Regions from separate parts of the Homo sapiens genome. Here regions 2 and 3 are each linked to region 1. The links come from fine-mapping of genetic effects on gene expression. A gene starts in region 1. Each other region holds a variant in brackets. All regions are shown on one strand. Distances are from middle to middle. Region 1 holds the start of RPH3A (rabphilin 3A). Region 2 overlaps RPH3A (rabphilin 3A). Region 3 holds the start of OAS1 (2'-5'-oligoadenylate synthetase 1).

The links.
Region 2: its variant is fine-mapped to the expression of RPH3A in whole blood (INTERVAL, PIP above 0.99).
Region 3: its variant is fine-mapped to the expression of RPH3A in whole blood (TOPMed, PIP 0.97).

Annotation. Positions count from the first base shown.
Region 1 is chr12:112,789,455-112,793,695 of GRCh38, reverse strand. RPH3A (rabphilin 3A) reads right to left here and starts at 1,948. Exons shown (of 22, transcript NM_001143854.2): 1 at 1,684-1,948; 2 at 1,433-1,553. RefSeq lists an enhancer at 1,315-1,856.
Region 2 is chr12:112,887,294-112,891,534 of GRCh38, reverse strand. RPH3A (rabphilin 3A) reads right to left here. Exons shown (of 22, transcript NM_001143854.2): 17 at 3,612-3,738; 18 at 1,455-1,511; 19 at 532-686. Among named protein-coding and RNA genes, the nearest start is that of OAS1, 18 kb to the left of the region's middle. The variant G/A (reference allele first, on the strand shown) is at 2,322.
Region 3 is chr12:112,905,759-112,909,999 of GRCh38, reverse strand. OAS1 (2'-5'-oligoadenylate synthetase 1) reads right to left here and starts at 3,038. Exons shown (of 6, transcript NM_016816.4): 1 at 2,781-3,038; 2 at 1,176-1,464. The coding sequence starts at 2,960. RefSeq lists an enhancer at 2,758-3,197. The variant G/C (reference allele first, on the strand shown) is at 2,549.

The sequences.
Region 1 (4,241 bases):
CACACATTCATTATTCACACTCAAGTCTTCCCAGTGAGGAATCTAAGGCAACTTCCTCCTCAAGGTCACCCAGCAAGAGAAGCTAGGAAGAGAAGTTAGGGATTTTGAGAACCAAATCTTTGACACTAACCACCAGACAACCCTCCTCTTCTGCCTCATATGTCCTGCCTGAGCAGGCACATGCTGTGGGATTTCAGCATCTCTTCTTAGCTATGGGGCTAGAGAAAAAAAGAATGAGTGAACCCTGCTTATATTTCAGGCTTGCCAATCTCTGACTGTTGTTTTATTCCTCCCACCTCCAAGAGCAAGAATCTAAAAAGGAAATCCTTGGGGGTGCAGAACACTGAGGTGGCCCCTGAGATAATAGCAAAAATGCTAAAAACAAGGGCATTCATTTCCAGAAAAGTAGATGTAATCAAAGCAGAAAGCAAAGTGAAATCCCCTTTTGATGGGTAGCAGATTAGCATCAAAAGCATTTCAAAATTAAATGTGAGCTTTTGGATTCAATTTCAAGGTACTTCCACTTCCCACTCACTAACAGGTTGGTGCAGCCTTTCCCCATCAGGATCTTGGAAAAAGAAACTAGTGCAGGGGGACGGTCTACCCTGGAACAAAACTGAAGCTGAAGCCTGGAATCTTTCCCCAGAATTTGAACAAGCTTTGTTCCCCTCCTTCCTTCTGAGATGAACTCAAGGATAGAATCTCCCAAGCTAGTGCCAGGACGCTCCCCCATACAATCACTTACAGGTTACGCCACCTGTGAAAATAAAACATCATCTCCTCTGCAGGCAGTGGCTGCTCCCTTCTGGCCAGCCTGACCACTCATCCCAGGCATAGTGTGGCCCTTTCCTGGCTCCCAGGTCTTCCATCTCAGGAAAGCGTGAACAGCCAACCTCGCAAAAATCACCACAATTAAATTACTCAGCTGTTCCTAGAAGAGGGTACAATCTAAGCTCTGTCCTGTGCAAATCTTACCCAGTGTGCCCAGGCAAAAGTTACCCTTCCAGTCTCAGGTGACCCCCTCCCCTCCAGGGATAAGCACTCACTTGCTAAGTCAGAGTACCCAGAGTCCCTCCATGCTAGACTAGCCAGCCCCACGAAGGGTTAACTCTCTCAGAGAACTGCCGGCTACTTTCACCAGCTTCTGCTGCAAAGGAGAGGGCAAATTGGGCAGAAGCCACAATCTTGATCGCATTGCCTACAACATGAGCACATTTTACCCCCTCCCTGGGCACTAAGCCAAAATCTCATTTGGCTTTGGGATGCCGCTTAGGTGATAAAACACTGCAGGATGTAGGCAAATAAGCATAGTCGTTCCTCGATACCCTTCTCCTCCCAACTACCCTTTACCCCACCAGCTCATGAACACACATCACAATTGGGATTCCAACACCCCTAGCCCATCTGCACAACCCGGGAGAATATCACTTACCGCGACGCTGGAGGCTTGCAGGGGGAATGGGTGAGCCAAATTCTTGCCAACTCCTCCCTTCCCTGCCGGGTAGAAAGACGCTAAGTCCCAATGACTTGGTTTAAAAGCTCAGCGGAGGTGCCTGAAAGAAAATTGTTCATTTGACTCTCCTACTCTTCCCAAAATAAAATCAAAGCACCAGTGCACACACGTAGACACACAGACACATCAACTACCCCTAAATCATGCAGGACCAAGACAAAAAGAAATACCACTGCCAGAAGCGGAGAAAACTCGGACCAGCCAGTGAGTCAGTGGACAAGGGACAGTGGCTCCCTCAGACTGTCCTCCACATGGATGAAGGTTTTAGCTCTGTGAGTCTCTCTCTCTCTCTCTCTCTCTCTCTCTCTCTCTCTCCCTTCTCCCTTCCTTTCCAGTCCGCGTAGGCAACTCCGGGCTGCTGGCAGTAGACGAATCAATTGCTTCCCCAGAGCCAGTTTCTGCCGCGGCTGCCACCACTACTGCAAAGCCCTGTGTGAGCAAGGGAAGCGGGGCGGCAGCTTCCCAGTGCAGGGGGAACCAAGCGGGAACCAAGCCTGCCTCCCACCCGTGATTTATGTGTGCGGTGCCTGGAGAAAGAAAGGTGGGAGGCCGGGAGGGGAGGTTGGGCGCACCAGAGATCCCAGCTGGTCGAAACGGCAACCAGGGGATTGGCGGTCAGCACCACGGACAGCGCTAAGATGCCTTGGAGGAGGGGATGGGTGGGAAGCGAACCCCTAGGCAGAGAAGTTAAGTAATTGGATGGTTAAAGCAGAGAAGGGGGGAGTCCGGAGGGGTGGGGGACGGGACTTCTCGACATCACACAGTCTAGTCAGTGACAGCTTACCTACCACACACTTTTTCTAATACTGTCGCTCACTCTCAGAGCAAAGGAACTATAACTTCACAGCCCCTGTCTCCCACACGCCCCCAGTCCTGCATTGCTCCTCTCTGCTCAGACAAGAGCTTGGCACCGGTGTGGGGGGCTCCCTAAGTGGTTTTGCCCCTCAAAGTTTCGCCCAGATGACCTGTCCTCACCCCCATTGCTGCAGATTTTTGACCTGTACCTGGAGTTTCTCAGAATTCAGAGCAGAAAAGCTGAGGCTTAAGAAATGGAAATTTCTAAGGGGCAGGGTGGCTTAGTTGAATAAGCACTTGATGGTTTTCTGGAAGTCAGATCCAGCCCCCTTACAACTCTGGAAAAGTCATTTAATGTTTCCAAGTCCCATCTGTGAAAATGATAACATAATGACCTTATTTTTCCTAAAGATAGGAAGCAAGAGGTTAAAATGCAACAATAAGAATACCCAAGCTGTGAACTGCCATGATTTCATGGTCCATAACCTGTCCTAAAACACAAATGTTTGGACAGAGTGATAAAGGAATTGACAGCCCAGCTAGGATGGCATGTGCCAACCTCACCCTTCAGCAGGTGGTTTGAGTAGAATGAAGGGAAATTTTAGGTCTAAATCAGACCATTGAGCCTTGGCCAAAGAGCCTTCCCCGAAAGATCCAGACTGGCTTTCTGAAGTGAATTCACTATATGGACAATGAAATAAAAGTATCAAAAGGGGAAATATATAAAGATGAATGGATTCCCATGGCTCCCAGTGCTCCATATCTCAAGAGTCCTATTCCTCCTAACTTTGGGAAAGGGCTCAAATTGGAAAAAGGCCAGGAAATCTCAAACAGACCAAGATCTGCTTAGAACTTCTCTGCAAAGTGAAGGAGAACTCTCTCTATTGGAGACTCATATCTAAAGCTTCCCATCCAGATGGCCCAGGGTTAACTACTACATTTGTCACTTACTTCTCCCCATGAGACCCAGGAGTTAAAATGAGAACATTTAGAGCTCATTTAAAAAACAATTTTTTAAAGACAGTGTCTCTGCCAGGCGCGGTGGCTCATGCCTGTAATCCCAGCACTTTGGGAGGCCGAGGCAGGTGGATTACCTAAGGTCAGGAGTTCGAGATCAGCCTGGCCAACATGGTGAAACCCCATCTCTACTAAAAATACAAAAAAATAGCTGGGCATGGTGGTGTGCACCTGTAATCCCAGCTACTCGGGAGGTGGAGGCAGGAGAATCACATGAACCTGGAAGGCAGAGGCTGCAGTGAGCCGAGGTTGCACCATTACACTCCAACCTGGGCAACGAGAGTGAAACTCCATCTCAAAAAAAAAAAGAAAAAGACAGTGTCTCACTCTGTCACCCAAGCTGGAGCGCAGTGGTGCAATCATAGCTCACTGAAACCTTGAACTCCTGGGCTTAAGTGATCCTCCCACCCCAGCCTGTCCAGTAGCTAGGACTCAAGGTGCACACGAATATACCCTGCTAATTTTTTTTTTTTTTTTTTTTTTGCAGAGATGGGTCTCACTATATTGCCCCAGCTGGTCTTGAACTCCTCGCCTCAAATGAACCACCTGCCTCAGTGGTGGTGGTGGTGGTGGTGGTAGTAATTGTCATCATGATGGTAATCATAGTGATGATTATAGTGATGGTGTTGATTGACAATGATTATGCTGATGATGTTGATGGTGATGATTATGGTGGTGGTGGTGGTGGTGGCAATGATGGCTGCTATTGAAAACCTACTATGTGCCAGCTCTTCTGCTAGGAACTTTACATGTATCATCTTCTGAAGTCCTCACCATGACCCTTTCAGGACACTAGTATTATTCCCATCTTGCAAATGAGAAAACTTAGACTCAAGAAATAAAATTCCTTGCTCAAGGCTTCACAGTAAGTTACAGACACAGCATTCAAACTCAGTGTCGTATGATTCCAAAGAAC
Region 2 (4,241 bases), 98 kb before region 1:
TGATAAACCCCTTGTCTGCTTAATCCTATTTTGGCATCTTCTTCTCAGAGGATCTGGACTAACACAGATAACAGAGTCCCTTTTATTCTCCATGATGAGATTGCTGGAACAGACCCCAGACTGAAGGCATGTTTTTTTTCTGAGCATTTCCAGAATGAATCTGGAAAATGCCAGATGGCCTCTTTGGTGGTGGAGGTCTGAGCGGTCCGAGGGGTGTGCGGCCAACTCCTGGGAGTACAAATGGGGCTACTATAACTAATTAGCTTAGTTGCAGAGCCATCAGCAGGCCCTCAAGAGGACAGAGCCACAGAGCTTTGCCTGTGGGCAAGTGACACACCAGTTTGACTGCCTGAGACTCCAGACCCACATTCTTGCCAGTTGTAGGCATTTGTTTCACTGTGACCTTGGGCAGGTTCCTTGCCCTCTCTGGGTCTCAGTGTACAACGATCTTGGTGAAACTGTCTGGTTCTCCTTTTCCAAGGCTCCAGGACTCCTTCAGGGCCCACCTGTAGCCCCAAGGCATTGACTTACAGCTTGACGAATGGGTCTGAGTAGCCATTAGCGTCCATGGCAGCCAGGTGCACGCAGCGTATGATGCCCACAATGAGGCCTCCCTGCTGTGTGCTGTACATGAGGGAGACCAGGATCTTGCCACGCTCCTCGATGTCACCAACACGCTCCACCTGCTGCATTGGGGGAAAAGGCAGTGTGGGCCTTGGAGGGGAGGGGGCCAGGAAATGTGAATGGCGAGCATTAGGGAAGAACCTATGAAGGGCAGGCGAAGCTTGGCCAGCTCTAGGGAGCCAGTACCAGGGACAGCAGATGGCTTAGCCTCCAAAGAGGAGCCAAAGGTGAAAGTTGAGGACCAGTCTCAGGCACATGGGGACCAATGGCTTCCCTTTGACTTAGACATAAACAGACTCTGACTGTGAGCACAGACTAAACTTGCTCCGGGTCACTGATTGGCTTTGGCTCTAACCCAGGACTGAGCCTTGACCCTGGCCCCAGACAGATTCTTGCCTCTGATCTCAGACTCCCTTAACACAACCAGTATTCTTAAAGGGCAGTCCTTGGGGTCATATGAGGGACCCAGGCAGACAGCATGAAGGCTTAGTTCAGTTTCTGCCATGCACACAGCTCAAAGAATGCATCTACTCCAAGAAAGGAGTGTGCCATTGCCCTAGTCAGTAGAATTGTCAACAAAGCTTCTGACAACAAGGCCAAAAACCTGGTGGGCATCCTGGGTATGAGAGAAAGGGGCTTCCCCCTCCTCAGAGGCTTAGGTGTGGAGAGGACATCACTTGTGGGCAAAGGGTTGTTCTCAAGGCAAATCAACAGGGGGGTGGTTGGAAGAGAATGGATGAGGAAGGGGCCAGGGAGGGAGAGAAGAGGAAGATGCTAGCCTAGCCCAGTACAGACCCTGACTGTGGCTTCAATTCCTGCTCAGTGCTCACCTCTTCCTCATAAAGGGCCATGCCTCGGGCTGACCCGGTGGTCCCAGCACGTTTCATCTTAAAAGAAGAAAACAAATAAAAGATAACATTGTCTATGGAGCTCATCTTCCTGCGCAAGAAGGACCAGAAACCCCTCATACTTCCATTACCATCCAGAGCCATGAAAGTGGGTTCTTAAGCTACTGTGGCTCTCCTGCATTCTCCCTTTTAGCTAAAATTTATAAAACTTAGCCATATGGCAAGCTATGTGAATGTGTAACAACCTATGATATAGGTTCTGTTACAATTCCAATTTTACAAATGAGGATGCTGAGGGTCCGAGTAGTTAAGCCCCTTACCCAAGGTCACACAGCCAATAAGTGTCAGAGCATTCCACACACAAACAGACAAGATTTCATTTTCTCTGGTTGAAGTGGCTCAGGGGTCTTGGGGTCTGACCCACCAGGTGCTTTTGCCTTCATGGCCCCTGGGGCCCTTTTGCTGAACTCTAGGCTCTGGGAAACAGAGTTAGAAAACCATTGGTTAAATCCAACCTCCCCACTTTGGAGAGGAGGAAACCTGAGGTCCAGAGGGGAGGGGCCCTCAGTGGGACATAATGGGGGAAGTTCGTGGTGCAAGGGTTAAGGTTTAATGGCAAAGAGCAAAAGAAGATGATCAGTAGTGTTCTGCGGCTGCTGCAGCCCTCTGGGTGTCCTGCACCTCCATGTCTCTGGGGCTGGCTGCATTCACCATAGCAAGATGGGAAGACCCAAAGGCTGATGACACAGGCAAGGGCCTGGCCATTGTCCTGGCCAACTGGACTCACGGAGTTGGAGAAGGAAGAGAAGCCTGAAGACCCAGCTGTCACCAGGCAAAAGCCCAGAAGAA[G/A]GGCCTCATTCCTAGGGATGTCTTTAAGGATTTATTCTGAGCCTGGAATTCAGTGGAAATCCTTCCTTGAAATTTTCCTTGTTTGGTCTTGTTCCTTTGCCTGAACTATAAAACTATGGCATGGCATGCAGACATTCCATCCTCAGGCTGGCCATCTGGTGGGAAGATGCTCCTGCACCCCATAGCTTCCCTGTGGAGAGCAGGCAGGCTGCCCAGAGAGACCAGGGGTGCTGGTGTTGTAGGAGAGCTGGACTCTGGCCAGTGCCCAGAGACCTTGGAGACTTGCTACCCTTTCTGGGCCCAAGTTGGCCCATACGTAAGGCAAGGCAGCCTGAATTATCTCTAAAAATATAGATTGTTGAGTCCTACCCTACCCCACTAAAACAGAATCTCCAGGGGAGACCCCCACAAATCTTAGCTTGTAAAGCTCTGGTTTTAGAATCCCCCGGTTAATTCTGAGGTGCAACCCCATTGCAGAACCTCACTTTGATCCTTGCTATTTTCTCAAAGAGCAAGAATCACATCTGACAACAACAATGACAGTTCTAATACTTCATATGTATTATCACATTCAATCCTTAAAAGATCCTATGAGGTTAGTACTACAGTATCCCATTTTACAGATGAGACATCTGAGGCCCAGAGAAATTAAATAATTTGCCTCAGGTTATACCCTAAGTGGCAGAGCCAGGATTCACACCCGAGAGTCTGGCTGCAGAGCCCATACTCTTAAACTCTAGGCTATGCTGTCTGCTGTTTATCTACATGGTGCTTTCTGACTTCATGACTGACAGGTGGGTAAGGCAGCAATATTTCCTACACTAACAACTGTTAATTTATGAGTGCTTACTATGCATTAAGTTCTATTTTGATTATGTTATTTTTTAAAACACAACCCTCCCAAGAGGCAGGTACTGTTATAACACCCACATTACAGACAAGAACACCGAGGCTCGGAGTGGTTCAGCCCCTTGGCCAAGGCCATGGAGCAGCAAGTGGCAGAGCTGGCTCTGAACCCAGGAAGCCCATGCTGCCCCTGCCATGCTGTCCATCCAGTTTGGCCAAGAAGAACTCATGTTCGAAGTGATGCTGACACAGGGTTTGTGAAAGGCAGAGAGAGAATGCAGCCTGAGGTTGTGAGCTGGAATCTTGACTCTCCTCTGCAGACCTGCTGCAGTGCCTCTGCTACCCAATACCCCGTGGATCTATTTCCCCCAATTCAGACCCAGAGGAAGGCAGCTCCCCCAATCTCCCCTCCTCCCATCAGATCCTCAGGGTAAAGTCACTCACAGGAATCACTCGCTCCAGGCAGATGTTGAAATTCTTCCTCTGGTTGGGCTTCAGTTTCTTGAGGGAGAATCTGGTCTCACCAATAAATTCATTGTGGCCAAATTTGTCCTCATCACAGACGGAGATCCTGCCACCAACACAAGGGGGTAGAGAGAGAAACAGGAACAAATATTAAGACACCACTGTGTGCCAAGAGTTGCAGCTGATACTGGTAAGGAATGTGTAATGTATGTGGAAATAATATGATTTCCTGTTTATTTATCACTGGACCAAGTACCTTTAACTTCTTCTTTATTGCAGTATAACTGACATGCAGTAAAGCACATAAATTTAGTTTATAGCTTGATGAACCCTTGCATTTGTATATACCCATGTAATTCCCACCCAGGTCAAGATATAAAACATTCCAGAGACTGAAAGATCCTCAGGATCCTTTCTAGTCACTGCCTGTCTCAAAGATAGCCACTCTTTTGCCTCTGGCCACATGAAGTCATTTGTCTGGTTTTTGACCTTCATATAAATGGAATCATATAATATAGACTCTTTTATGTTGGCTTCTCTTGCTCAAGATTATGTCTGTGAGATGCATCCATGCACAGTATAACTTATCCTTTTTATTGCTGCATAGTA
Region 3 (4,241 bases), 120 kb before region 1:
CCCTGGTGTCTTTGGAGAGTCAGCATTTTTTTTTTCATGGCTGCCCTAGGACTAAAGGAAACTGTGACAGTTCCTTTAATTAAGTCCTAATTACTTGATAATTAATCACTAATTACTGCTTAATGACCAACTATTAATTAGTAGCCACTAATCAGTAAGTTCAGTTTAATAGTAGCCGTTTGTGCGGTGTGTGACAGATGTCATCGCATTTCCCTCAAAAAATTAAAATCTAAACTATTCCGTGTCCCTCTGTGAGTTCACTGTGGTGTTTTGAGGTGCCTTCATATACAGCTGGGAAATTCATAGTTTTGACTGATTGACTGATTGATTGAGACAGGGTCTTGCTCTTGCTCTGTGCCTAGGATGGAGTGCAGTGGTACATTCGTGGCTCACTGACACCTCGAATCCTTGGCTGGCCTCATGTGATCGTTCAGTCTCAGCGTCCTGAATAACTGCGACCACAGGCATGTACCACCACACTTGGCTAATGTTTTAAAATTTTTAGTAGAGATGAGGTTTCACTTTGCTGCCCAGGCTGGTCTTGAACTCCTGGGCTCAAGCGACCCTCCTGCCTCAGCCTCCAAAAGTGTTGGAATTACAAGCATGAGCCACCACACTTGGCTGGAAGTTCCTATTTTTGAACACCTATTACTCATCAGAGCTGAATGTAGATGATCATTTATCACTTAAAATAATGATATGATACAGGTAGTGTGGTTTTACCAATTCTCCTGATGTGGCAAGGGAGCCTCTGAGAGGTTACACTTCCTGTCCAAATGTTCCTGCAAATTATAAATATCTATCTCCCAACGTGCTGCATACGTTTGATGAGATCTCATGTTGGGACAAAGATGAGAGTAACATGAACTTTAAGCCACATCTTTGCTGCCTGATTTTAGAAAGATAAAATTCACACATTTTGCCTTAAACAGAACCAGTAAGCCTTGCAGATGTTCTGTAAGAAATGTCTTTGTCCCCACATTATGCCAATTTGCTGTTTAATGTCTCTCCTGTGATAGATCATGACCGTATTCATTCTTGCCCCGGGACAGATCCTAAGATCTCCTCCCACCCTGCTTTAGAGAGATGCCCTGTTGGGGCAAAAAGCTCTCAAACTGTGGGAGATTTCTGCTCAGAAATGGGAAGAGGGAGAAAAAGAAGCTGGGAGCTCTCACCCAGGGCATCAAAGGCAGGCAGCACATCGAACTCCACCCCCTCCCCGAGCTGGAGCGAACTCAGTACGAAGCTGAGCGCACGGGGGTTGCCCCAGCGTGGAGCCTGGACCTCAAACTTCACGGAAAATGCTCTCTCTCTTTGACAGGCTTCCAGCTGTCTCCTAATTTCCTGGATGAACTCTCCCCGGCGATTTAACTGATCCTGAAAAGTGGTGAGAGGACTGAGGAAGACAACCAGGTCAGCGTCAGATCGGCCTCTGAGGGTGGTGCCCTTGCCTGAGGAGCCACCCTGAAAAAGACGACAAAAATAATAATTGATGCTTAGTGAGGCAAACCTCCCTAAATAAAATGACAGGAGCAATCACTAACATTATGGAGCACTAGCCACTGTTCTGAAGGCATTGCATGTCTTAAACTCCTATAATGCTCACAATGATGCTATGATTTGGATGCCATTATCATTAGTTCCCATTTTACAGATGGGAAAATGGATGCTCAGTGAGATAATATATCAGCCCCATCACCCAGCTAGTAGGTGGCAAATACAATTCAAACCTGGGGGCCTTCTTCCAGGATCTGTGTTCTTTTCCCATTGTCCTTTACGATGCCCAGGACTAGCTTATGCTGGGTGGTTCACACTTACTATTTTACTTAATCTACACGGCCCTATGAGGTATTGAGGGAAAGTAGAGGAAAAATCAGTTAGGTAAATGGTCAAGGCTGGGCCCTGGAGGAGCGGCCTGCCTGAAACTGGCGCAGGGAGTGGGACTTACCTAAAACAAATCCACAGTTATACATACAAGAGAAGCAGCGCTTTATGCTTGCCTAGAGATATACCCACAGCTGCATAAGGTAAGGGAAGTTGCACAGCTTTACTGATAAAAAGTTTCTCAAACAGTTACAGGGAGGAGAGTGGTTTCTTATAAAAGTTTTTTGCATTCAGCTGCAATCTGGCAATCCACTCAGACTTCCCTCTCCACAGTGGAGACAGCTTTCTTCTTTTGCTTACTGAACTTTTGCTCCAAGCTCACGTTTGTGTCCATGTTCCTTAATTTTCTTGGATGCAGGACAAAGAACCTTGGGTACTAATTCAGTGAGAAGCTGCTACATTAAGGTGCACTGGCAAGACTGCAACAGTATTGGGGATTATGGCTGAGGAAATTGGAACACAGAGTAGTTAAGTGACTTGCTCAAGGTCTTGCAGCCAGCAGGTGCTATTTGCTTTCAAAACATATGATTCTTCACTGCAGAAATGGTGAGCCCCTAGCCTGGCCACGAATTAGCAAACTGTTTACCAGAGCTGGGATTCAGTTCCCTATTTCTGAAATGGGCATCGCCCAGGACAGTGGTTCATAAACTTCAGCGGGAAGTAG[G/C]GGGGAGGGTCACTTGTTAATAATAGGGATGTAGGATTTCACCCCAGAATCTATTTTAACATGCTGTGTGGATAAATAAGAAACCACCATCCCAGAAGATCTCAGCTCTCTGTACTCACATTTGCACCCTGGGTTCTAGGTTTTTGCTTCTCTCTCTCTCTCTCTCTCATTCTCAATCTCAACTCTTGCACATTCAGCCACCCCTCCCCTGGCCAGGCAGGCCTGGACTCACCTTTACCACCTTGGACACACACACAGGGTAGGAGCTACCTCGGAAGCACCTTTCCTTCAGGAACCCACAGATGATGTCAATGGCATGGTTGATTTGCATGCGGAAACACGTGTCTGGCAAGAGATAGTCTTCAATGAACTTGTCCAGAGATTTGGCTGGGGTATTTCTGAGATCCATCATTGACAGGAGAGAGAGTGGCAACAGAACTGCCTCCCAGACCTGTTTGCTTTTATCTCTTCTGCTGACTGAGCTTGGACTGCTGTTGGTTTCGTTTCCTCAGAAGGGAGGAGCTGTCTTTGCACTTTCCTTTTGCAAATCAGACACTCCCCTGATCCCAGTGCTGAATTTCATCTGCTCACTCTTCTGCTTCCTGAAACTTACCCTTTGTCCTTTAGCCAGCAACAAGCAGCCCAGCCTTTCTCTGAACTCTGCTCTGGAAATGCATTTTAACCTCCAGCCAACATAAATCTTATTTAACAGATTTTGTGTTTCCTTCTTTATCTTTTTTTTGTTGTTGATGAAATCCTTTCACAGTTGTCTGTGGTATTTTCCAGCAATACATGCCCACTGCAAAAAGAAAAAAAGTCAGAAAAACCAGGAAGTGGAAAGATCATCTATGATTCTAACACTACAAAATTGCCTCTATAAACGTTTTGATATAGAGCTTTCCAGATTTTTTTCAAATGTTAACACACACACAAACACAGGTCTCTTTTCTTTTTGTTAAGAATGGTATTATACTATGCTTTTTTCCCTTTCAATTAGTAGATTTTTATTTTATTTTATTATTTTTTGGAGACAGGATCTTGCTTTGTTATCCAGGCTGGAGTGCAGGGGCATGATCATGACTCGTGCAACCTCAACTTCCTGGGTTCAAGGGATCCTCCTGCCCCAGCCTCCTGAATACCTGGGACTACAGGCATGCGTTACTGCACCCAGCTCATTTTTTATTTTTTGTAGAGACAAGGTCTTGCTATGTTGCCCAGGTTGGATTTTATTTCTCACAGCAGTTTTAGGCTTACAGAAATATTGAGCTGAATGTGCAGAGAGTTCCATAAGCTCTCTCTCCTGCCAATAAGTTCCTCTATTATTAACAGTACTGTGATACATTTGTTACAATTGATGAATTGATATTAATACATCATAATTAACAAAAGTCCATTTACATTAAGGTTTACATTAAGGTTCACTCTTGTGTCCTACAGTTCTATGGATTTTGCCAAACATAACATGTCATGTATCCACCATTACAGCACCATGCAGAATAGTTTTGAGATAGGAGGTGGGGCTTGACTCAGGGCCAGATTGAAGACTGGCTGGCATGAGCACCAGCACCATGAACAGTTTACTCATTCCCTGGCAATGACCCAGTTACCACCCTTCTTCTAGAAATTTCTGAATAACCTGCCCTTAATTTGCACGTATTTAAAAGTGGGTATGAATGTGACTATAGAAGTGCCC